5 separate regions of the Homo sapiens genome follow, and regions 2, 3, 4 and 5 are each linked to region 1. Evidence: fine-mapped expression QTL. A gene starts in region 1. Each other region holds a variant in brackets. All regions are shown on one strand. Distances are between the middles of the regions.

Region 1 (5,109 bases):
GTCGAGGCTGCAATGGGCCACTGCACTCCAGCCTGGGCAACAGAGTGAGACCTTATCTCAAAAAAAAAAAAAGTTGAATTTTCAAAAATAATATGTAATTATATCCACAAAGATAACAATACTTAACACTTAGGAGTCAACAGCAAAAACCAGAAATTACCCTTGGTAGGTTAGGCAGAAAGGAATGTAATACAGGGAATTAGATCACCACAAAATTGTCGAAAGGCCTGGAGGAGTAACATCTAGGCTGATCTTCTGGGTACAACTGCTAAATCAAGCACCACAGTATGGACACACCAAGGAAGTATCTACCTCCACGACCTGGAAGCCAGGAACCAACCAGGAGGCCACGGTACTGTCAGCCCCAGGGACCTATCAACGCAGCCACAATCCATGATAACAAAATGAATGCTCTGTACCCTCCCACAGACCCATGAGGTAGTAGCTAAGTGGGAAGCGGAAAATCCAAACCCCTCTGTGTCCTTCCCCTCACTTTCCCCTTCCAAATCTCCCAGTCACGTGCCTGGCTAAAGCCAAGTCACGTTTACAACCAAACTACAGTGGGGTCTGGGAAAGGTAGTCTTTAGCTTTTTAACCTCCAGATGTAGATTCTTTTGCCCTTCTGTCAGGGAGATGACAAGTAGTGAAAAAGCAAGCAAAACAGCAAGAAGTAATAGGTCTGCATATTCCAGAAACAAAAAGGTCCTAAGGTAACTTCATGATCCAAAGATGAATATCCAAATGTCCATCAATATTGGTAACCAAATAAACATTAAATTAAACAATACGATAGCATATTAACTTCTCAAATTAGAAAATACCAGTGTTGCTGAGAGTATAGAGAAATAAGCAAAAATTTTGCATACTCTTTATTCTAGAAATGGTACCTTTCAGGAATTAAACGTCCATACCTATAATAAATATTTGGTTACAAGGATATTTATGTTACTTACAATAGCAAAAAAAAGAACCTAAATACCAAGAAGAGGGACTGTCTAAACTATGGTACATCCATATACTGAAAAACTGTAACCATTAAGAATGATGTTGAAGAAGACTGAATGATAAGGAAAAAAAGTTATGATTTCCCAAAAAAATGTACATGAAACTCCATTTTTCACCTTCCCCCTCCACCAGAAAGTAAAAGAAATTATACAGGATAGAGAACATGTTAACAGTAAGGAGATTATGGAGATTAATATTTATTTTCTTTATGCATAGGCTATTTCCCTGAATGTTTTACTGAAAATACGTACTACTTCTGTAACCAAACGAAAAAAAAGTAGTAAGAATTTTTTTAACCAACTCATGAAGAATAGTTTCTCATAACACTAGTTTATTCTGGTAAACAGAAATAGAAATTACAAGTTATAATATTCAGTAGCCATTCCTTTGACTCTGCTTTTCTATTTTCCTTCTCCACTACCAATTTATCCAAGTTGCCACATTTGCCTACTTAATTCTGAATTTACTCACTCCATTCCATCCACTCAAACTTGCAACCTCTTGTCTCCTCATTTTCACTAAAACACTTGCCCATATGTACGTTTCTCCTGGCATATTATCCACAGCTAAGTATCAACTGGCACACTTTTCTGAGCCCTCTCTCACACAAGTTCTTAAAGAACCATTCCCAACACTTGCAAGGAAATAGGCAAACCCACAAACATAAACTTTCGTTAAGATAAAGTCAAACATAAAAAGACCAGTCTACAAGCTCATACTTAAAACTGGATACATACTCCTTACAGCCACACATTCTTACAGACTCAGGGAATCAAGGAGAGAGGTCTTTCTCTTTCATGTCAGCGTCCTCTCCATTCAACTTCATCTTTCAGTCTTCTAAGCTGAACACAGAATTGCACCTTTTGTTTCATTCCTAGAATGACAAACCTTACTCTTTCGTGGTACTGAGCACTTAAATAAATTAGTTTATACTTTTAAATGCACTCTCACTAGTCTAAAACTCTAGGTAGGAAGGGTCCCTATTTGTTTTGCTCATCTTTGTAGCCAATGCCTAAGAATACGCTCCCAGTAGCATTCAATAAGTAATGAATAAACGACTGTATTATTACTGATGCATGATTCTGTCAATACAGTCAAAGCACACACTACGTTCCCAACTTATAAGTAAGGAAAACGAGGCTGGGGCGGTTCAGCGGCGAGTCAGCGCAGACCCAGGAGGAGAGCGGGGTCTCGGAGCTGCAGGAAGTACGGTCAGCCATGCAGCGGCAGGGCTGGGGGGCATGCAAGGTTCGCGCTTTGCAGACTCTCCGTAAGGGCTAGTGTCAATAAATCGAGTTACGTGCGGTGGTGAGCGGACAAGCTAAGTTGGCATATAGTACGTGGTTCAGTCAGTATTTATGAATGACTCAAGACACAAAAATAGCTTCATAAACAGTGCTTTGCTTGAGTTTGTCCGCTCACTACCGCACGTAACTCGATCCGGAGAATTAATCCGTGGCGAATTCTCCAATAACTGCGCGCGCACAGTAAACGGAGAAGCTGAAGCTGGGAGATGAGTTGATCGTTTTACAGAAGCAACCAATAAACTCCCCAGGCCGGGACCCAAACCCACCGGAACAGCAACTGGAAACCTACATCCTTGGTGCACCAGGCCGTCCAACTCTTCAGCGGAGGCCTGCAGGTGGCGCTGATCTCACCACGTTTCCCCTCCACAGGCCAGGGGCCAGGCCTGGCTACCGGGCCCGCGACCTCATTCATCTGGCGTCCGCCGGCCCCGCGCGCCGCGCAGGCGGGGGCCGTGGCCACCAAGCCCGGGCGCAGTTTCTCTCCGCCCACGGCAGGAGCGAAGGAAGGCCCTGGCGCGAGCGGGTAAACTGCCCACCGGGCGGCCCACCCGCTGCGCCCCCGGCCCGCAAGAGGCAGTCCCAATAGGTTGGCCCGCCTGGCCGAAGTCCGCCCGGAGCCCGCTCACCTGTCAGCCCCCACTGCCGTAAGTCCTGCTCCTGCACCCGCGCCGCCTCGGCTCGGCCCTCAGTATGAAGCCGCAGTAAGAAGCCAGGGGCTTGGCCCCCGCGGCTAGTAGCGCCCGCGCGCTCCATCGGGCCGGTAGAGGCCCCGCCCCGCGCGGCCAAGCGCGCACCTCCCTCCCAACTTCCCAACGCGCGGGGGCGCGCGACTGCGCGCTGGGGCCCACCTACGAGCGAGGCGCCGCCAGAGGGCGCGTCCTGCCAAGATATCCGGAGCGGAGCTGGTGCAGTCACCCTTCCGGACAGGCAGTTCTTGCAGTGCGGAGCGTGGAAGGGCTGCCCAGTTCTCACCAGTCGTGCTTCTGAAGCGCTAGGCGTCTGATCACGCACAGGACGTCTGATTGCCTGAACTGCCCGTCAAGGAGGTGGCATGTGTTCATCATTCATTTATTATTTAATCAACATCGACTATCATGTGTCAGACACTCCGCTGGGCCCTGGGGGTTCTAGAAGTAAGACTTGTTCCGTGCCCTCCAGTGATTCACGATAAGATCAAACTGTTCTTGTTCGGTTTACCTAGTGATAAATTGATTTAGTCCCTGAAATCCCTTTCTTACTGCCTGTGACCTGTAGGCCAAAATTGGGAACCTCTGAATAGTAGTAAATTAAAATCACCAAAGACGTCATTGTGGCAGTGGGTATCTCAAGTGCATTATGGGGAGCAGATTGAGGCAATGTGTTCAGTTAGGGGTCACCGTGACTCAGCATCAGCTTTGAGTGGATTTATGATGTAGTATACCACTAATATAAATATGATAATAACAAAATAGCTGCATTTATTGATGAAGTTCTGGGTGGTGTCCTAAGGGCTTTAAGTATATTTTCTTATTTAACCTTCACAATAACCAATAATTAGGTGTTATAATTGTCCCCACATTGTAAATGAAGATATTGGGACTTGTAATGGTAATTGGCAGTACTGGAACAGGAACGATATTATTCTCTGGCTAATGTCATTAGAATAGTATTCTCATTTAGGTTAATCTTGGTGCTTCCTTCTTCAGTAAACTCATGTTAAATTTGTACCCTCCATTCTCATCTTCCTCTAAAATAAAAGGGAGAAATTTGTTCTGAGCTAGAAAAGGGATGACTTCAGATTGGTTTATTCATAAAAACTCAAGCAAAGCACTGTTTTATGAAGCTATTTTTGTGTCTTGAGTCATTCATAAATACTGACTTTCATGCGCGTCCGTGTGAAGAGACCACCAAACAGGCTTTGTGTGAGCAATAAAGCTGTTTATTTCACCTGGGTGCAGGTGGGCTGAGTCCGAAAAGAGTCAGCGAAGGGAGATAGGGGTGGGGTCGTTTTATAAGATTTGGGTAGGTAAAGGAAAATTACAGTCAAAGGGGGTTTGTTCTGTGGCGGGCAGGAGTGAGAGGTCACAAGGTGCTCGGTAGGGGAGCTTTTTGAGCCAGGATGAACCAGGAAAAGGACTTTCACAAGGTAATGTCATTACTTAAGGCAAAGACGGGCCATTTAAACTTCTTTTGTGGTGGAATGTCATCAGTTAAGGCAGGAACCAGCCATCTGGATGTGTACGTGCAGGTCACAGGGGATATGATGGCTTAGCTTGGGCTCAGAGGCCTGACACTGACTGAATTACATACTATGTGCCAAGCACTCTATGGTACTGAAGATAGAGGCCACTTATCTCCTGGATCTTACATTTTAAAAGGAGGAGACAAGCAATAAATAAAAATCAGGTAGTGAAGGGGTGGCCTGCCCCTCCACACTTGTGGGTATTTCTCGTCGGGTGGAATGAGAGACTTAAGAAAAAAAAGAGACACAGAGACAAAGTATAGAGAAAGAAAAGTGGGCCCAGGGAACCGGCGCTCAGCATACAGAGGACCTGCGCTGGCACCAGCCTCAGTTCCCTTAGTATTTATTGATCATTATCGGGCATTTCTCAGAGAGTGGGATGTGGCAGGACAATAGGGTAATAGTGGAGAGACGGTCAGCATGAAAACATGTGAACAAATGTCTCTGCATCATAAACAAGGTAAAGAAAAAAGTCCTGTGCTTTTGATGTGCATACACATAAACATCTCAATGCCTTAAAGAGCAGTATTGCTGCCCACATGTCCCACCTCCAGGCCTAAGGTGGTTTTCTCCTAT
Region 2 (5,109 bases), 150 kb after region 1:
CCCTGCAGCTGGTCCTCCCAGCAGGAGCTCAGTTTGCCCCTGGGTTATCATCACTTAGCAGTCCCTCCAGACTCAGCCAGACAGGACCAGACAAAGATTCTCATTTGATTTTTGTCTCTCTCTCCCCTAAAGATACCAAATACTGCTGGAAGAATGAAAAGGATGAAAGGATGTCATCAAAGTAGTTTTTTCACTTGATGGAAAAGACTAAAACAGCAAAGCAAGTTCAAGATCAAACACAACACCACAGGGATCCTTTGATGAGAAGTGAACTTAAGACCATGAAATGCTGTTGATGATTTTAACCCACCAGCCTCCTTTGATTTGAGAAGCCACAGCCCTTCCCCCTCCAATTGTGATCAACTATGATCAGTACCTAAGGAGACTGATGCCCAGATGAACAAACAGCATTGAGAGGCCTTAGCCCTGCTCCTCTCAATTCCTATCCCGTAGAGAACAGGAGTCAGGAGCCGCTGGCAGGAGACAGCATGTCACCCGGGACTTTGCCAGTGCAGAATAAGAACAATGCCACGTTCTTGCTGAAAGCACTTAGCCTGAGTTTCGTAGGAGGTAATCACCAGACAACTGCAGAATGTAGAACACTGAGCAGGACAACTGACCTATCTCCTTCACACAGTCCACGTCACCATGAATCACACAACAAAAAAGAGAAGAGACATTTTGGGTTGAAAAAGATTGAAAAGATAATGTAGCTACACTTCTTTGGTCATTTTGAACCCAAAGCATCTCATCTTTTTATTGTTGTCACTGATGGTGGTGACATGGATTTGTTTGTAGAGGACAGGTCAGCTGTCTAGATCATGGTCTACATTCTGAATTTGTCTGAAAATGTCCTTATGATTAAATTCAGCCTAAACATTTTGCTGGGAACACTGCAGAGTCAATGCGGTGAGTTTCCTACCTCAGCCCATCTGCAGGCAGAGAAGGTCCAGTTTGTCCATCACCAGTATCATGATACCAGGACTGGTCAGTTGGTTAAGGAGGGGCCTAGGAGATCTTTCACTTGTAAAGACTCCTTATTTATAATTCATTTGGAAAGTGGTTTGAAAAAGTATAAATATCTTGTATTCTAACGATCTTCCTCTGAACATTTTATCATCAATTAATCACCCCTGCCTGTGTCAGTTATTATATTTCGTGGGCGGCAAGCCATCCAGGTGCCGAGGCAAGAGACTGAGGGCATGAGCTGTTCCAGTATAATAAAATATATAAAACAACAAGAGTTATACTAGATCTAGATCATAGACATGATTATATATGAATATCATTAATCATTAGTTTGTAGCAATTACTCTTTATTCCAATATTATAATAATCCTCGCTCTATAATCATAACCTAGGAAAAACTAGGCCATACAGAGATAGGAGCTGAGGGGACACAGTGAGAAGTGACCAGAAGACAAGAGGGCCAGCCTTCTGTTATGCCCGGACAGGGCCACCAGAGGGCTCCTTGGTCTAGTGGTAATGCCAGCATCTGGGAAGACGCCCATTGCCATGTGGACCGTGGTCTAGCGGTAGCCTCAGTGTCAAGGAAAAACACCCACTACTTAGTGGACTGGGTAAGGGAGTCTCCCTTTCCCCTGGGGAGTTTAGCAAAGATTCTACTCCTCCACCTCTTGTGGAGGGCCTGACATCAGTCAGGCTCGCCCGCAGTTATCTGGAGGCCTAACCGTCTCCCTGTGATGCTGTGCTTCAGTGGTCATGCTCCTAGTCTGCCTTCATGTTCCATCCTGTACACATAGTGCTGCAGTGGACATATGCCAGCATGTATCTTTATAACAGAATGACTTATATTCCTTTGGGTATATGCCCAGTAGTGGAATTACTGGTCAAATGGTATTTCTGCCTGTAGGTCTTTGAGGAGTAGCCACAGTGTCTTTCCCAATGGTTAGACTGACTTACACTCCCACCAACAGTGTAAAAGCATTCCTTTTTCTATGCAACCTTGCCAACATCGGTTGTGGATTTTTTTCTATTTTTGCCTATGGATGTCCATTTTTTCAGCAGAATTTGTTAACAGGACAATGCTTTCTCCCCTGAATTGTTTTGAACCATTGTCCGCCCATTGGCAGGCATGAGACTGGAGAGAGGACTGTCCTATCATTGGAGGGACAGGGCTTGAAATAGGGCAGGTCTTATGGAAAAGAAAAGGAACACTTATTTTTTCAATGAGGCAGAGGAAAGCCCCAAGCACAAGTGGGGTACTCCCTACCCCATGTGTGGCACACTCGCCTCTGCTCTCCTGCCTCTCCTGCTGCACAAGTTTGGGTGTGCATGGACACTGAGGCCGTGTTGTGCCACTGGGCACATTTGGGCATTGACATCAAATGTGTGGCATCAAATCCCAGAATCTCAAGCAGGCAAGTGACAGGAAAACATGAGACACAACGAAGAATGAAATAATTCAGTTGAAAATGACACACATGTTAGAAATAGCAGACAAGGACATTACAGCAGTTATTATAATTTTAATTAAGTGAAGAATTGGGAGATATTTTTTAATATCAAATTCCATAAGTGAAAACTGCGATTTACAGTCTGAAGTTTAAAAAAAATACACTTGATTAAACATTGCAGAAGAAAAGATTAATGAACTAGAAGGAGTAGTAGAAGAAACTAACACAAATGAAACA[T/C]GCAGGGAAAAATGAATTGAAAACATAAAAAGCCCATCAATGGGAGGCTTAAACACCCTACTGTAGGGGTAAATGGAATCCCTGAGGGGAATGGAGTGGGTAACAGGGATAGAAAAATATTTAAAACACACTGGATGGAAGCTTTCTAAGCTTCATGAACACCATAAACTGCAAATATCCCAGAAACATAATGTATCCTAAGGACAAGAAACATGAAGAAAACTACACTAAGGAACACCATACTCAAATTGATCAAAACCAGTAATGAAGAGAAAATCCTAAGAGGGCTAAAAGGGGAACAAATATGTTATATACTGAGGACTAAATGTAAGGATGGCATCTGATTTCTCATCAGAAATATTACAAACAAGAAGTTTGCAATACTTTTAAGTACTGAAAAAAAAGTCAACCTAGAATTCTATACCCACTGAAAATCTTTTTCAAAAATGAAGATGAGGCTGGGTACAGTGGCTCACAGCTGTAATCACAGCACTTTGGGAGGCCGAGGCAGGCGGATCACGAGGTCAGGAGTTCGAGACCAGCCTGGCCAATATGGTGAAACACTGTCTCTACTAAAAATATAAAAATTAATTGGGTGTGGTGGTGGGCACCTGTAGTCTCAGCAACTCTGGAGGCTGAGGCAGAAGAATTGCTTGAAACTGGGAGTTGGAGGTTGCAGTGAGCTGAGATCAGGCCACTGCCCTCCAGCCTGGACAACAGAGTGAGACTGCATCTCAAAAAAAAAAAAAAGAAGATGAGCAAAAATGGTTTGGAAAGAAAACAAATTATCTCAATTTGTAGATGACATGATCCTATATAGAGAAAATACCAAATAATACACACACACACACACACACACACACACACACACACACTACGGGAGTTAATAAACTAATTCGGCAAACTTGTAGCACACAAGATAAATGGACAAAAACCAGTTGCTTTAGCAATGAAAAAAATTTTGAAGGAAAATTAATATACTTCATTTATAATAGCACCCATAAGAATAACACATCTAGGAATAAATTTAAGAAGGTGAAATACTTGTACACTGAAAACTACCTAACATTGCTTAAAGAGATTAAAGAAGAACTAAAAAAATGGAAAGACATCCTGTGTCCATTGTTGGAAGATTTAACATGGTTAAGATGGAAATGAAACTCAAAACAATCTACAGATTCAGTGTAATGTTATTCAAATTCCAGTGGCCTGTTTTTTCAGAAATTAAAAAAACAGAACTTTTTATTTGGAAGAAATTGCAAGTATCTGCAAATAGCAAAAGGAATCTTGAAAAATACGATAAATAACTTATATTCCAAAGATCTTTTTTATTTTAATTTTTTAAATTTGTTTTTGAAATGGAGTCTTACTCTGTCATCCACACTGGAGTGCAGTGGTATGATCTCTGTTCATTGTAACCTCCGTCTCCCAGGTTAAAATGACTCCCTTGCCTCAGACTCCTGAGTTGCTGGGACCACAGGCATCCACCAGCACTCCGGGCTAATTCTTTGCATTTTTAGTGGAGACTAATGGGTTTCACCACATTTGCCAGTCTGGTCTCGAACTCCTGACTTCAAGTGATCCACTCACCTTGGCCTCCTAAAGTGCTGGGATTACAGGCCTGAGCCACCACACCTGGCCTCCAAAGATCTTGTATTGCTCTCTGCAATATTTCATAGTCTTCAGTGTACAGGTGTTCACCTCTTTTGCTATGTAGTTCATATTTTTCGATGGTATTGTTAATGTTTGTTTAAAGGAATCTTTTAAAAATTTTTATTAAAATGCTATACTATTAAAGTCTACAACATGATGGTTTGATATACATATACATAATGAACTAATGGCTACAGTCAGGCTAATTAGCATATCCACCTTCTCACATAGTTCCTTTTTTAGTGTAGTGAGAACACTTTTGATCTACTGTTTCAGCAAACTTCAAGTATACAATACAGCATTAACAATAGTTCTCACGCTGTACATTAGATCTCTAAAACTCATTCTGTAACCAAAAGCAGGTCAGTTGCTCACCACATGTAGAGTCCAATTAAGTGTGAGGCCCGCTACAAAAAAAGTGAATTTATTTCCAAAGGTAGCTTGGGGGAGAAGCACAAAACCTCTCCTTTGGAGCAAAAAGTGGATATTTTTATTAGGTAAATGGGGAAGTGAGCAAGGACAGGGAGTCTCCCTGCTCCCAGGCAGTTATCCACTGGGCAGCCAAGGTGGTGCCTTTCTGGTCAGAAGTAAGTTGTAAAAGTGGCCAAGTGAGCCTGCTTTCGACATGCCCTCCTAGTGGGTGTAAGTTCTGAGGTGACCCTTCATTCACTATCGGTAGACACTTAGGCTGTTTTCATGTCTTGACTACTGTGAAGAATGCTGTGATAAACACGGGGGTGCAAATAGCTCTTTGAGATACTGACTTCATTTCCTTCGATTATATACCCAGAAGTTGGATTGC
Region 3 (5,109 bases), 93 kb after region 1:
TGTTCCCCTTCCTGTGTCCATGTGTTCTCATTGTTCAATTCCCACCTATGAGTGAGAACATGTGGTATTTGGTTTTTTGTTGTTGCGTTACTGACCCATTTGGATGTGGAAATACAGAAGTGTAAGACAATAAATTTGTGTTGTTTTAAGTCACTAAGTTTGTTGAAATTTGTCAACAGCAGTGATAGGAAATGAATACAACATGTCTATGGTCTGATCTAATATCTTAAATCAAGAGCCATAGGATCAAGTTGTTTCCAAGTAACTTACCTGCATCCTAGAACAAAGCTCAAGAATATTTATAGGAAAACAAAAATGTTCAGCACCAAACAAGAAAAAGTTTATCATATCCGACATCGGAAAAAAACTGAGGCACTCAAAAAAATAGAAAAATCAAACCATTATGAGAAAAAAAAAAATCCATCAATTGAAATTGACTCAGAACTGTTACATGAGGGTAGAAATAGCAGACAGTTGAAACAATAATAAGTTTATAAGTTCAAAAGCTGGAGAAAAAAGCAAACATGTTTATATATATATATAAATATGTAAGTGTGTTTTATCACGTCTGAAAGACCCAAATTGAACTTTATAGATTAAAACTACAAATCATGAGAAGAAAAGTAAACTGGATAGGCTGAACATTAGATTAGACATTGCAAAGAAAGATTATACTTGAAAGACGTAAGAATAGAAACTACACAAAATAAAACTGAAAAAGGGCTTAAAAATGAACAACACATCAGTGAATTGTGGAAAAACTTCAAGTGGCATAATAATTGGTACTATGTGTGTCCCCTCCAAAATTCATGGTGAAACTTAATCTCCATTGTGGTGGTATTAATTGGGGCCTTTTAGGAAGAGATTAGGTCTTGAGGGGTCCTCCCATGTGAATGGGATTAAGGCATTTATAAAAGAGGCTTCACACAGAGTTTTGGCCTTTTTTGCCCTCTGCCTTCTACCATGTAAGAACACAGCAACAAGCAACCATCTTGAAAGTGAAGAGCCACTCTCACTAGACACCAGTGCCGGTGCCTTGATCTAGGGCTTCCCAGCCTCCAGAACTGCACAAAATAAATTTCTATTATTTCAAAATTGCATAGGCTGTGATATTTTGTTATAGAAGCAGAAATGGACCAAGACAACTGGAATACCCAAAAGAGGTACGAGAGGAATAGGACAAATATTAGTAGAAATAGTGACCCAAATTTCCCGAAATTTGATGGAACCTATAAAGCCACAGATCTAAGTAGCTCAATTAACCCCAAGCACAAGAAATAAGAAAATAAAACAACTAAATGAAGGCAAATCATAATAAAATCTCTCAAAACCCGTTAGAAAAATTGTAAAAGCAGCCAGAGGAGAAACAACTAGTTATGTACAAAGGAAGAAAGATAAGGGTGATAGCAGATTTATCATCAAAACAATTATAAGCTAGAACACAGTGGAGCAACATCTTTTAAGTACTGAAAGAAAAAAAACCCCTACAACCTGGAATTATTTACCCAGTGAAAATACGTTTCAAAAAGTGAAGGTGAAATAAGAACTTACATTAAAAAGCTGAGGCCAGGCATGATGGCTCATGCCTGTAATCCCAGCACTTTGGGAAGTTGAGGGAGGGAGATTGCTTGAGGCCAGGACTTTGAGACCAGCCTGGGCAATATAGCAAGACCCCATCTCCAAAAAAAAAATTAGCCAGCTGTGGTGGTACGCACCTGTATTCTTACCTACTCGGGAGGCTGGGGCAAGGGCATTGCTGTTGCTTGAGCTCAGGAGTTGGAGGTTGCAGTGAGCAATGATGCAGTGCACTGCAGCCTGGGTGACAGAGTGAGCCCTTTTTTCTAACAAAAACGAAAAGGCTGGCAGAGTGACTTTCATTTCTGGGAAGATGGAATAGGCATGCTTTTCCCTATTCCTACCAGTAAGTAGAAATAAAACCCTGGACATTTTCTATACAATAAACATAAGGAGACTCTGAAAGATGAAGAGAAAAGGGCAGAAACTTCAGGCTTCAAAAAATGACACAGTGAGTTAGTTGTCTGCTCTCTTTAGCCCATGTGGACCAGGAAAGGGGCAGCCTAACAAGGGTCCACTTTCATTCTTTTGCATGTAGATATCCAGCTTCCCCAGAACCATTTGTTGAAAAAACTGTCTTTTCCCCATTGAATGGTCTTGGCACCCTTGTCAGAAATCATTTGATCATATATACAGGATTTATTTCTGGGCTTTTTATTCTATTCCATTGATCTATATGTCTTTGTGTTAGTACCACACTGTTTTGATTACTTGAGCTTTGTATTAAATTTTGAAGTCAGGAAATATGAGTCTTCCAACTTTGTTCTTTTTAAAAAATTTTTGTAGAGACAAGTTTTTGCTATGTTGCTCAGACTGGTCTTGAACTCTTGATCTCAAGCAGTCCTCCTGCCTCAGCCTTCCAAAGTGCTGGGATTACAGACATGAGCCACCATACCCAGCTTGTTCTTTTTCAATATCGTTTTGTCTATTCAGGGCCCCTTAAGATTCCATATGAATGTAAGGTGGATTTTTCTATTTTTGCAAAAAAAAAAGTTGTTGGAATTTTGGA[CT/T]AGAGGTTGCACTGAATCTGTATATCACTTTGGGTAGTATTGACATCTTAGCAATATTAAGTCTTCCAATCCATGAATATGGGACATCTTTCCACTTTTTCATGCATTCTTTAATATTTTTCTGCAATATTTTATAGTTTTCATTGTACAAGTCTTTCACTTTCTTGGCTAATTCCTATGTATATTTTTTGATGCTGTTGTAAATAAAATTATTTTCTTAATTTTCTCCTTTGATAATTGTTAGGGTATAGAAACATAAATTATTTTTGTGTGCTATTTTGTGTCCTGCTACTTTGCTAAAGTCATTTATTAGTTCTAATAGTTTTTTGTGAAATCTTTAGTGTTTTTCTACATTTCAGATTATGTCACCTATGAACAGAAGTAATTTTACTTCTTTCTTTCCAATTTGAATTCCTTTTAGCTCCCTATATTATCCCAGTAATCCTCTGGGAGATTCTCTACACTCTCTAAGGTTGTAGCAAAGACTCTTCCTTAGAGAAGACCCTGCCTTATGCCATCCTTTCTTCTCTGAGACATCCTCCTGTGGATGAGAATGGGATGAGAATGTGATGAGAATGGGATTGCCTTTGAGAATTCTCAATGTTCCAGCCTCTGATTAGGAAAAAATGTCTCATCCTATGTGCCCTGTCCCTACCTTGCTATAATATCCAGAGGTTAGAACAATTCCCACATTCTGATAAAAGTATATTTTTGAGCACTTATTTTCTACAAGTTTGAGGTCTTAAAGGAAATCTTATTCACTGACCTGTGTACCTCCAGTGCTTATCATGGTGTCCAAAAAATTAATTACTCAATAAATATTCATGAGATAATATATGTAAAACCCTTTGTAAACTGAATGTGCAGAAGAATATAATTATTACTATTTCGGTAGATGAAATGGTCCTTTTTCCTTAACCTCTCCTGGTCCTAAAAAGAACTGTTAAAGGTAAGTCTCTAACACTTCTTCAAGCACTTTTTATTCCTGCTAATCCAACAGTTGTTTCTTGGGCTCTGGGGTGTGGGGCAGAGGCTTATGGCCACATTTTTCTCCTCTTGGCATTGTGCTCCCTAGGAGTAACGCGTCCCCATTTCAAGTTGCAGGGTTCCATTCTTTTCCAGTCAATGCCCTCACTTTAACGGTAGACACCTGGCTAGGCTGTGCACTCATCTTTCATTGCAGGTCAGCCAATCGCATGATGCAAGCTTGTGTCTGTTTTTCCACAATTTCAGCTTTTTATCTACAGGATATAAGACTCTCACTCAGGGCAGTGTTAGCAGATTTGAGGTGCAGTGTCTGCTTCTGAGGCTGGGAGACAGAATCCCTGAGTTCATCCTTTTCTTTCATCACTTTGTCCACTGAACTTATGAGCAACTAACCAGCTTCATTATGTTCCTTAGTTCTTCACATATGGTCAAAGGTATTATGTATAGAGTCACTAAACTCCTTGCCTCTCATGAGCAGTGAATCATGAGTGTCAAATGCATCTATTTTGCATAACTCTCTAAACTGTTTGCACAGAAGACTATCAATGTTTTCCATACTATTAGAAGTAGAGTCCTTAGCATTTTGGGTCCAATAATATTAAGCAGCCAACTCCAGAAACCCCAAAACCAATGAAAAACTCCATCCTTAATATTCTGTTCCTCTAGAACCACCCCTGGTAGCAAAATCTGTATTAGTCAGGGTTCTCTTAGAGGGACAGAACAAATAGGATATGTGTGTATATATATATATATATATATATATATATGTATATGTGTGTGTATATATAGTTTATTTTATATATATATGTATATATATAGGAGTTTATTAAGTATTAACTTACACAATCACAAGGTCCCACAATAAGTTGTCTGCAAGCTGAGGAGCAAGGAGAGCCAGTCCGAGTCCCAAAACTGAAGAACTTGGGGTTCAATGTTTGAGGGCAGGAAGCATCCAGCATGGGAGAAAGATGGAGGCTAGGCCCGTCTCTGTCCTTTTCACGTTTTTCTGCCTGCTTTAGTTCGCTGGAAGCTGATTAGATTGTGCCCACCAGATTAAGGGTGGGTCTGCCGTTCCCAGCCCACTGACTCAAACATTAATCTCTTTTGGCAACACCCACACAGACACACCCAGGATCAATATTTTTAGTCCTTCAGTCCAATCAAGTTGACACTCAGTATTAACTATCACAGATGGGATCAACTGTAGCGTAAGAAGTGAAAAGTTACTGCATTGAACAGCCCCTAATAACTTCTGGAGAAAACATATTTCCACTTGACCCTAATGATGGCTTTAAATACCAAAATCAAAGAGAACCACTGACTTCCATTTTCTTTCAGAGATGCGAGTCTTTTAGTAAACTTAAAGTTGGAAAAATGGCTCTGTCTCTAGTGCCATGCAGTGAAACAGATAGCATGGTAGATGACATAGGCAAGGGCAGAATGGAGTTAATGACAATGACATAAGATGATAAAAAAAATAATAATTTGGGGCCTTTGAAGGAACAGATGAGCTGGCTCAGAGAAACATTACACCATT
Region 4 (5,109 bases), 80 kb before region 1:
AAGGAGAAATAAAATACTTTACAGACAAACAAATGCTGAGAGATTTTGTCACCACCGGGCCTGCCCAAAAAGAGCTCCTGAAGGAAGCGCTAAACATGGAAAGGAACAACCGGTACCAGCCACTGCAAAATCATGCCAAAATGTAAAGACCATCGAGACTAGGAAGAAACTGCATCAACTAACGAGCAAAATAACCAGCTAACATCATAATGACAGGATCAAATTCACACATAACAATATTAACTTTAAATGTAAATGGACTAAATGCTCCAATTAAAAGACACAGACTGGCAAATTGGATAAAGAGTCAAGACCCTTCAGTGTGCTGTATTCAGGAAACCCATCTCACGTGCAGAGACACACACAGGCTCAAAATAAAAGGATGGAGGAAGATCTACCAAGCAAATGGAAAACAAAAAAAGGCAGGGGTTGCAATCCTAGTCTCTGATAAAACAGACTTTAAACCAACAAAGATCAAAAGAGACAAAGAAGGCCATTACATAATGGTAAAGGGATCAATTCAACAAGAAGAGCTAACTATCCTAAATATATATGCACCCAATACAGGAGCATCCAGATTCATAAAGCAAGTTCTGAGTGACCTACAAAGACACTTAGACTCCCACACATTAATAATGGGAGACTTTAACACCCCACTGTCAACATTAGACAGATCAACGAGACAGAAAGTCAGCAAGGATACCCAGGAATTGAACTCAGCTCTGCACCAAGCAGACCTAATAGACATCTACAGAACTCTCCACCCCAAATCAACAGAATATACATTTTTTTAGCACCACACCACACCTATTCCAAAATTGACCACATAGTAGGAAGTAAAGCTCTCCTCAGCAAATGTAAAAGAACAGAAATTATAACAAACTGTCTCTCAGACCACAGTGCAATCAAACTAGAACTCAGCATTAAGAATCTCACTCAAAACCGCTCAACTACATGGAAACTGAACAACCTGCTCCTGAAGGACTACTGGGTACATAACGAAATGAAGGCAGAAATAAAGATGTTCTTTGAAACCAACGAGAACTAAGACACAACATACCAGAATCTCTGGGATGCATTCAAAGCAGTGTGTAGAGGGAAACTTATAGCACTAAATGCCCACAAGAGAAAGCAGGAAAGATCCAAAATTGACACCTAACATCACAATTAAAAGAACTAGAAAAGCAAGAGCAAACACATTCAAAAGCTAGCAGAAGGCAAGAAATAACTAAAATCAGAGCAGAACTGCAGGAAGTAGAGACACAAAAACCCCTTCAAAAAATTAGTGAATCCAGGAGCTGGTTTTTTGAAAGGATCAACAAAATTGATAAACTGCTAGCAAGACTAATAAAGAAAAAAAGAGAGAAGAATCAAATAGATGCAATAAAAAATGATAAAGGGGATATCAACACCGATCCCACAGAAATACAAACTATTATTAGAGAATACTACAAACACCTCTACGCAAATAAACTAGAAAATCTAGAAGAAATGGATAAATTCCTCGACACATACACTCTCCCAAGACTAAACCAGGAAGAAGTTGAATCTCTGAATGGACCAATAACACACTCTGAAATTGTGGCAATAATCAATAGCTTACCAACCAAAAAGAGTCCAGGACCAGATGGATTCACAGCCGAATTCTACCAGAGGTACAAGGAGGAACTGGTACCATTCCTTCTGAAACTATTCCAATCAATAGAAAAAGAGGGAATCCTCCCTAACTCATTTTATGAGGCCAGCATCATCCTGATACCAAAGCCGGGCAGAGACACAACCAAAAAAGAGAATTTTAGACCAATATCCTTGATAAACATTGATGCAAAAATCCTCAATAAAATACTGGCAAACTGAATCCAGCAGCACATCAAAAAGCTTATCCACCATGATCAAGTGGGATTCATCCCTGGGATTCAAGGCTGGTTCAATATACTCAAATCAATAAATGTAATCCAGCATATAAACAGAACCAAAGACAAAAACCACATGATTATCTCAATAGATGCAGAAAAGGCCTTTGACAAAATTCAACAACCCTTCATGCTAAAAACTCTCAATAAATTAGGTATTGATGGGACATATTTCAAAATAATAAGAGCTATCTATGACAAACCCACAGCCAATATCATACTGAATGGGCAAAAACCGGAAACATTCCCTTTGAAAACTGGCACAAGACAGGGATGCCCTCTCTCACCACTCCTATTCAACATAGTGTTGGAAGTTCTGGCCAGGGCAATTAGGCAGGAGAAGGAAATAAAGGGTATTCAATTAGGAAAAGAGGAAGTCAAATTGTCCCTGTTTGCGCATGACATGATTGTATATCTCGAAAACCCCATTGTCTCAGCCCAAAATCTCCTTAAGCTGATAAGCAACTTCAGCAAAGTCTCAGGATACAAAATCAATGTACAAAAATCACAAGCATTCTTATACACCAATAACAAACAGAGAGCCAAATCATGAGTGAACTCCCATTCACAATTGCTTCAAAGAGAATAAAATACCTAGGAATCCAACTTACAAGGGATGTGAAGGACCTCTTCAAGAAGAACTACAAACCACTGCTCAGTGAAATAAAAGAGGATACAAAGAAATGGAAGAACATTCCATGCTCATGGGTAGGAAGAATCAATATCGTGAAAATGGCCATACTGCCCAAGGTAATTTACAGATTCAATGCCATCCCCATCAAGCTACCAATGACTTTCTTCACAGAATTGGAAAAAACTACTTTAAAGTTCATATGGAACCAAAAAAGAGCCCGCATCGCCAAGTCAATCCTAAGCCAAAAGAACAAAGCTGGAGGCATCACACTACCTGACTTCAAACTATTCTACAAGGCTACAGTAACCAAAACAGCATGGTACTGGTACCAAAACAGAGATATAGACCAATGGAACAGAACAGAGCCCTCAGAAATAATGCCGCATATCTACAACTATCTGATCTTTGACAAACCTGAGAAAAACAAGCAATGGGGAAAGGATTTCCTATTTAATAAATGGTGCTGGGAAAACTGGCTAGCCATATG[T/C]AGAAAGCTGAAACTGGATCCCTTCCTTACACCTTATACAAAAATCAATTCAAGATGAATTAAAGACTTAAACTTTAGACCTAACACCATAAAAACCCTAGAAGAAAACCTAGGCTTTACCATTCAGGACATAGGCATGGGCAAGGACTTCATGTCTAAAACACCAAAAGCCATGGCAACAAAAGCCAAAATTGACAAATGGGATCTAATTAAACTAAAGAGCTTCTGCACAGCTAAAGAAACTACCATCAGAGTGAACAGGCAACCTACAAAATGGGAGAAAATTTTCACAACCTACTCATCTGACAAAGGGCTAATATCCAGAATCTACAATGAACTCAAACAAATTTACAAGAAAAAAACCCCATTAAAAAGTGGGCAAAGGACATGAACAGACACTTCTCAAAAGAAGACGTTTATGCAGCCAAAAAACACATGAAAAAATGCTCACCATCACTGGCCATCAGAGAAATGCAAATCAAAACCACAATGAGATACCATCTCACGCCAGTTAGAATGGCAATCATTAAAAAGTCAGGAAACAACAGGTGCTGGAGAGGATGTGGAGAAATAGGAACACTTTTACACTGTTGGTGGGACTGTAAACTAGTTCAACCATTGTGGAAGTCAGTGTGGCGATTCCTCAGGGATCTAGAACTAGAAATACCATTTGACCCAGCCATCCCATTACTGGGTATATACCCAAAGGACTATAAATCATGCTGCTATAGAGACACATGCACACGTATGTTTATTGTGGCACTATTCACAATAGCAAAGACTTGGAACCAACCCAAATGTCCAACAATGATAGACTGGATTCAGAAAAAGTGGCACATATACACCATGGAATACTATGCAGCCATAAAAAATGATGAGTTCATGTCCTTTGTAGGGACATGAATGAAATTAGAAATCATCATTCTCAGTAAACTACCGCAAGAACAAAAAACCAAACACTGCATATTCTCACTCATAGGTGGGAATTGAACAATGAGAACACATGGACACACGAAGGGGAACATCACACTCTGGGGACTGTTGTGGGGTGGGGGGGAGGGGGGAAGGATAGCTTTAGGAGATATACCTAATGCTAGATGACGAGTTAGTGGGTGCAGCGCACCAGCATGGCACATGTATACATATGTATCTAACCTGCACATTGTGCACATGTACCCTAAAACTTAAAGTATAATAAAAAAAAATTTTTTTTCTTTCATTTAATAGGTTGTCTTTTCACTTTCTGATAGTGTCTGCTACACAAAAGTGCTTATTTTCTTTTTAAGTTTTTAATTTTGTGGGTGCATAGCAGCTATGTATATTGATGGGGTACGTGAGATACTTTGATACAGGCATGCAAGGTGTAGTAATCACATTAGGATAAATAAAGTATCCATCACCTCAAAAAAAAAAAAAAAACCCAGCTCCTGGATTCATTGATTTTTTTTGGAGGGTTTTTCGTGTTTCTATCTCCTTCATTTGTGCTCTGATGTTATTTATTTCTTGTATTCTCCTAGTTTTAAAACTAATTTGCTCTTGTTTCTCTAGCTCTTTTAATGATGAAGTTAGGTTGTCAATTTGAGATTTTTAGCTTTCTGATATGGGCATTTAGTGCTATAAATCTCCCTCTTAACAGTGCTGTAGCTGTGTTCTAGAGATTCCGGTATATTGTCTCTTTGTTCTCATCGGTTTCAAAGAACTTCTGGATTTCTACCTTAATTTCGTCATATATCCAGGAGTCATTCAGGAGAAGGTTGTTCAAGTTGCATGTAATTTTGTGGTTTTGAGTGAATTTCTTAATCCTGAGTTCTAATTAGATTGTACTATATTCTAAGATAATTTTGTTATGATTTCAGTTCTTTTCCATTTGCTGAGGGAGTGTTTTAATTCTAATTATGTGGTCTGTTTTAGAGTAAGTGCTATGTGGTGCTGAGAAGAATGTATATTCTGTTGATTTGAGGTGGAGAGTTCTGTAGACGTCTATTAGGTTCACTTGATCCAGAGCTGAGTTCAAGTCCTGAATATCCTTGTTAATTTTCTGTCACATTGATCTGTCTAATATCGACAGTGGAGTG
Region 5 (5,109 bases), 120 kb after region 1:
AAACTAGTTTCTTAACTAGTGATTGGTCTCAGTCTGTAGACTGCTCTCTACCATCCTAGAAGAAGAGAAAACAACTCATCTTCCCTGTTGGAAGAAGCAAGCTCAAACTTCATAAAGGAGTTACCTGCATTCCATTGTCATGGAAGCAGGAAAATTTGCCTTCCTGTTGAAAGCAAGTAAAACTCCAAAAAAAGAAGAGTTGTACAGTAAAATAAACTTAAGATCTCAACCAAATTTGGGGAGATCAGGGATTCTCTGGAGGGGGTGCTGTCAGATCTCAGCAAATTATCCTATTGGCTTGAGCCATAAAGTTAGCTCATGCTGGTACCAAGCACTGACAGGAGATTTGTCAAAGGTCAGGGGCATCTCCACTCAGAATCCCCCCGTGGTGGTTACCAAAATGTGAACCCAACAAATCTGAGACAGGTCTCAGTTGATTTAGAAGGTTTATTTTGCCAAGGTTGAGGACGCACAAGGACACAGCCTCAGGAGGTCCTGACGACATGTACCCAAGGTGGTTGGGGCACGGCTTAGTTTTATACATTTAGGGAGACATGAGACATCAACCAATATATGTAAGAAGTAAATTGGTTCAGTCTGGAAAGACAGGAAATCTTGAAGGAAAGGCAGGAAAACTCAAAGTGGAGAGGGAGCTTCCATGGGAGGGAGCTTCCAGGTCACAGATGGGTGACACACAAATGGTTACATTATTTTGAGTATCTGATTAGCCTTTCCAAAGTAGTCAAATCAGATATACATCTATCTCAGTGAGCAGAGGAGTGATTGAATAGAATGGGAGGCAGGTTTGCCTTAAGCAGTTCCCAGCTTGAGTTTTCCTTAGTGATTTTGGAGGCCCAAGATATTTTCCTTTCACAGTCCCATAGTCCTAGAAGCCTTCCCAGCTGTACAGAAAATCACTACTTTATGCCCCAGTGCAGGAGAGGCTGCAAGGCTTGGGAAAGTGTCCCATGATTCAGAGTCAGACCTCAGGGGCTGTGAATTCTGACCCTACCTCATTCCAGGTGAATCATCTTGTCAAGTTGCTTGGTGGGCCCCTGAGCTTTTTTCCTATCTCTAAGTTGGGGAGTATCAGATGCCAGGAAGTGAGGAGACTGAAGAGTAAAGATGTGCAATCCCTGCCTAGAGCCTGGTACTGGGGACAGTTTTGTCCTTGGGATGGACCTGGCTCCTGCCCTGTAGGCAGTGACTGCAACAGCATGTCCAGCCTTCCACTGAGGCAGGTGTGTCTGTCTTTTCTCAGAGTGTGAAGAGTGCAAAGACCTCATAAAATCTAGGCTGAGGGATGAGCTGCAGTTCAAGGAGGAGAAGCTGGCAGAGAAGCTCAGGCAAGCTGGAAAGCTCAGGTGAGGGGGCCCCATTGGGGGCAGGCAGGTGGGCAGGAGTGTGAATCTCTGTGCAGCAGCTCAGCGGGGGAGAAGTAAGAGCTAAGCCGAGCCAGGGGAAGGGCAGGAATTGCCATGGCAGACACATGTCACACAAATATTTATAAAACAGAGAACAATAATAGTAATTTATGGGTTGCAGTTATTTCTCAGAGCCTCGTTTTCTCTTTTTCTAACAAGTAATTGTTGAGGTGAAATTTGCATAACACAAAATTAACCAAAGGAAAGTGAACTACCCAGCAGCATTCAGTATACTCAAGATGCTGTGCGATCACCACTGCATTTACTCTTAGTCAGAATCAACTCCTAACTGACTTGGGCTTCTCATTTCTTCAACCACTATTGCCTTCTTGACACTGTCATTCTTTTATTCTTTCATGTTTCCAGTTGTACCTGGCCACATTTCTGTGCACGGCTTTGTGTCCAGTCACTGAATAATGCACGATGTGTATTTGAACATGAAAATGTCCACAGGCAAAATGAGAAATTGAAGGAAAATCCTTTTGGAACTGATTTGGTTACAGAAGAAAAAGATGAATGGAATGTTGAAAAATCTTCCTGGAGCTCTCTCTCTCTATCGCAGTGGGGAAGACCTGTTTTTTTAAAAAAATACATTTTTCTTTCTCTTTGCAACAGG[C/T]ATTTCCTTTAATATGTGCTGACTTTCTGCGTGGAGGGCTCCTTTGTTTCGATATTAGAACTGATCACTCATCTCTTTCCACTACTAAATTTTCTCTACTATCCCACCTTAGGCAATATAAAGTCTCTGTTCACTCCCAGGCCCGAGAGCCGGCCCAGTTACAGGACAAGTTACGGGAAGGGAGAGATGCCTTCCTCTTACTGAATCAGCATCTCAAGGCCCTCCTCACTCCTGATGATTCTGACAACTCCCAGGGGCAGGACCTCTGAGAGCAGGCTGGCTGAGCACCTTGTCCACAAGCTCAGCCCAGATAAGGAGACCACAGGCCCTGATGACACAAAACCCCAGGCTTGTGAGAGACTCTACACCTCCATACCTCCACAATGACAGTTACATAGGTGGTGTTTCTTTCCATTAAACATATGTGGCCATGACATGACCAGGATTTCCTGGGTAGGAACAGAGACAAGAAGTCCATGGGGTTAGAGGTCACAGTATTGCAAATGTCTCCTCCTCCTTGATAGTCACGTTCTTTGGAGCAAGAGGCCATATCCATTCAGTTTTAAAGGATAGGAAGGAGGCTGTGACAGGAGGCAACTTGTTAGAGTAAAAAGAGTCCTGGATTAAGAATGAAGTTTCCCAGGCTGTATCTTCAGCAATGTCCTTAGTAACCTTGGGTGAGTGATTGATTTATCCTTTCTGGATTTCTTTGTCTAAATCTCTACAGGGGTCAAAATGTCTCTTCAATGGTAGATACAGCATTCAAATATGGGAACACTTATGATTACATTTCAAAATAAGATGAAGCCCCTCACCGTGTGGTGTTGGAGAAGGCACTTGATGTGGGGGCATTTGGTGGTAGGAAGTGCTTCAGACTGGAGCACTCCCCATGGAGAGAATGTCCCTGAATAACACAGCAGAAGCCAACTTGGAGGGCTTGTGAAGTCTCCCAATGCATGGAGAAAGGTGGGACAAGGCTGTTTGTCCTCCCGTAAGAGAAAGAAATATATTCTAAATGTGAGAGTTGTGACAGGACACCGATCCTGTGCCTGGGAATCAGATCTGTGGCAGGATGGGGAAGACAGCTGCCAAAGTCCAGAAAGATGCTGGACAAGCCTCCAGTGATACGGGGAGCAAAAGGTCTTTTCAATATTTGGCCACAGCTTGATGGTGGCCCTCCAGATCAGAAATTCATTGCCTGATGGATCAGGAAACCATACCAGGGAATTTTGTTAAAGATAAAACATGAGAGCTTTCAGCACAATGCTGACCCATACATAGATGTTAATGTCTCTGTGCACATAGGGCTTGCTGTACTTGCAGTGTGTGAAGTGAGGAATATCTAAATGGACACTTCTATATTTGTTTGCAGAGAATGATGAAGGTGATAATGAAAATGATAAAGATGAAGAGATTCATAAAGGATGAGAATCACCTGCCCCCAGGTAACACTGAATAATCAGGCAGGTAGTGGGTGGATAAACCATGGAAAAGGTCTTAGAAAGAATACAAGTGAGTTGAAGGTAGTCACAGATTCCAGATGGAGGGTAAAGAAAGCTGCAGAGTGTGCTCATTTCATGCGCTCACCCAACAAGGAAATAGCCCTAGTCCATTGTCTTCATGGTCCTTGTAAGCATGACCCTCGATAAACCCACCAGCCCTAGGGATTTCCTGCATTCACAGAGAACTGTTCTCTCCTGTAATGAAAACCAGGAGGAGATGCAAAGCTGCTTTCTACATGATTGTCTTCAGGTTCTTGTTAAGAAAGATAAATAGCAAAGAGGTGGGCCAGGCATGGTGGCTCACACCTGTAATCCCAGCACTTTGGGAGGCCAATGTGGGTGGATCACCTGAGGTCAGCAGTTCGAGACCAGCCTGGCCAACATGGCAAAATTTCGTCTCTACTAAAAATACAAAAATTAACCAGGTGTGGTGGTGGGTACTTGTAATCCCAGCTACTTGGGAGGCTGAGGCAGGAGAATCGCTTGAATCCGGGAGGTGGAGTTTGCAGTGAGCCAAGATTGTGCCACTGCACACCAGCCTGGGCAACAGAGCGAGAATGTGTCTCAAAAAAATAGTAAAGAGGTAACAAACAGAGGAATTATTTAGGAAGTTTCTAGAAAATATAAACATCAAGAGAAGTACCTAGAAAAAAATTGTACATTTCACAATATTAAAAAAAAAAAAGACCTAGAAGGCACACCATTTCTGGAGCCTACAGTGGCTCAAGAGCCTGTATTCCTTTGGCCACAGTATTTAAATTCAACCCAACTTTGGCACACGATGTAGCAGCTGTTATGGTTCTCCATGCATGCTGAGTGTCACATCTGCACACATAGAGACAGTTGAGCCTCCATCTTCTTCAGCTCCTATCTTCCCAGTGCAATGAACACCAGCTGCTCTCTTCCTCTTTGGCTCCCATGGCATCCACAATCTCTTGCAGAGAGAGGAGGAGTGCCTGTTCCCTCTTAGAGGGAGCCACCCCTTTGCTTTTGGGGACAATTCTCTTATGCCTCTGTCAAAACTGGCTAGGACTCCCTGGTGTCCAATCCCTCTCTGTTTAATATTTTGCCATCTCTATCCCACCTGACTCATCAGGGAGGTGCAGAAGGCTGAAGAAAAGGAAGTCCCTGAGGACTCACTGGAGGAATGTGCCGTCACTTGTTCAAATAGCCACGGCACTTAGGACTCCAACCAGCCACACAGGAACACCAAAATCACATTTGAGGCAGACAAATTTGACTCTGGGCTGGTTGTAGACAGTGAATCCTCTCATGATGAATGGGAGGATGCTCTACACATTCTCCCAGGTAGACTCTATATTCCCTGTCCCTCATACCTCTGTCTAGGCTGAGGAAGATCAACTCTGAAAAAGAGCTCTATACAAACAAATTGGTTTGAATTAGAAATTAGGATGGGGTACTAAACACAGATATCAGGAGGTTTAGGGAGTTTTCCTCTCCTCCTCAGCCCATATCATGCCTCTGTCTCCCTGTTCCCAGTGTCATGGACCCCAGGCAATTGGGACAAACTCATAGTTACCTTTGTCCAGGAGGTGTGCAGGAGGTA

Which allele goes with the higher level. Alleles are on the strand shown, and positions count from the first base shown. SD is a standard deviation of normalised expression in the study named. Not every link is listed here.
For the expression in lung of the gene that starts at base 3,085 in region 1, CT is the high allele of the variant in region 3 and T is the other (small effect, 0.28 SD a copy in GTEx).

The links. PIP is the estimated chance that this variant, and not a neighbour inherited with it, causes the effect.
Region 2: its variant is fine-mapped to the expression of CHD1L in whole blood (TOPMed, PIP above 0.99).
Region 3: its variant is fine-mapped to the expression of CHD1L in lung (GTEx, PIP above 0.99).
Region 4: its variant is fine-mapped to the expression of CHD1L in whole blood (TOPMed, PIP above 0.99).
Region 5: its variant is fine-mapped to the expression of CHD1L in blood mononuclear cells (TOPMed, PIP 0.92).

Annotation. Positions count from the first base shown.
Region 1 is chr1:147,240,660-147,245,768 of GRCh38, reverse strand. CHD1L (chromodomain helicase DNA binding protein 1 like) reads right to left here and starts at 3,085. Exons shown (of 23, transcript NM_004284.6): 1 at 2,939-3,085. The coding sequence starts at 3,065. RefSeq lists a silencer at 2,634-3,253.
Region 2 is chr1:147,094,917-147,100,025 of GRCh38, reverse strand. It overlaps the pseudogene NBPF13P. Among named protein-coding and RNA genes, the nearest start is that of RNVU1-8, 13 kb to the right of the region's middle. The variant T/C (reference allele first, on the strand shown) is at 2,655.
Region 3 is chr1:147,147,242-147,152,350 of GRCh38, reverse strand. No RefSeq gene overlaps it. Among named protein-coding and RNA genes, the nearest start is that of PRKAB2, 23 kb to the left of the region's middle. The variant CT/T (reference allele first, on the strand shown) is at 2,585.
Region 4 is chr1:147,320,929-147,326,037 of GRCh38, reverse strand. No RefSeq gene overlaps it. Among named protein-coding and RNA genes, the nearest start is that of CHD1L, 81 kb to the right of the region's middle. The variant T/C (reference allele first, on the strand shown) is at 3,035.
Region 5 is chr1:147,117,328-147,122,436 of GRCh38, reverse strand. No RefSeq gene overlaps it. Among named protein-coding and RNA genes, the nearest start is that of RNVU1-8, 35 kb to the right of the region's middle. The variant C/T (reference allele first, on the strand shown) is at 2,041.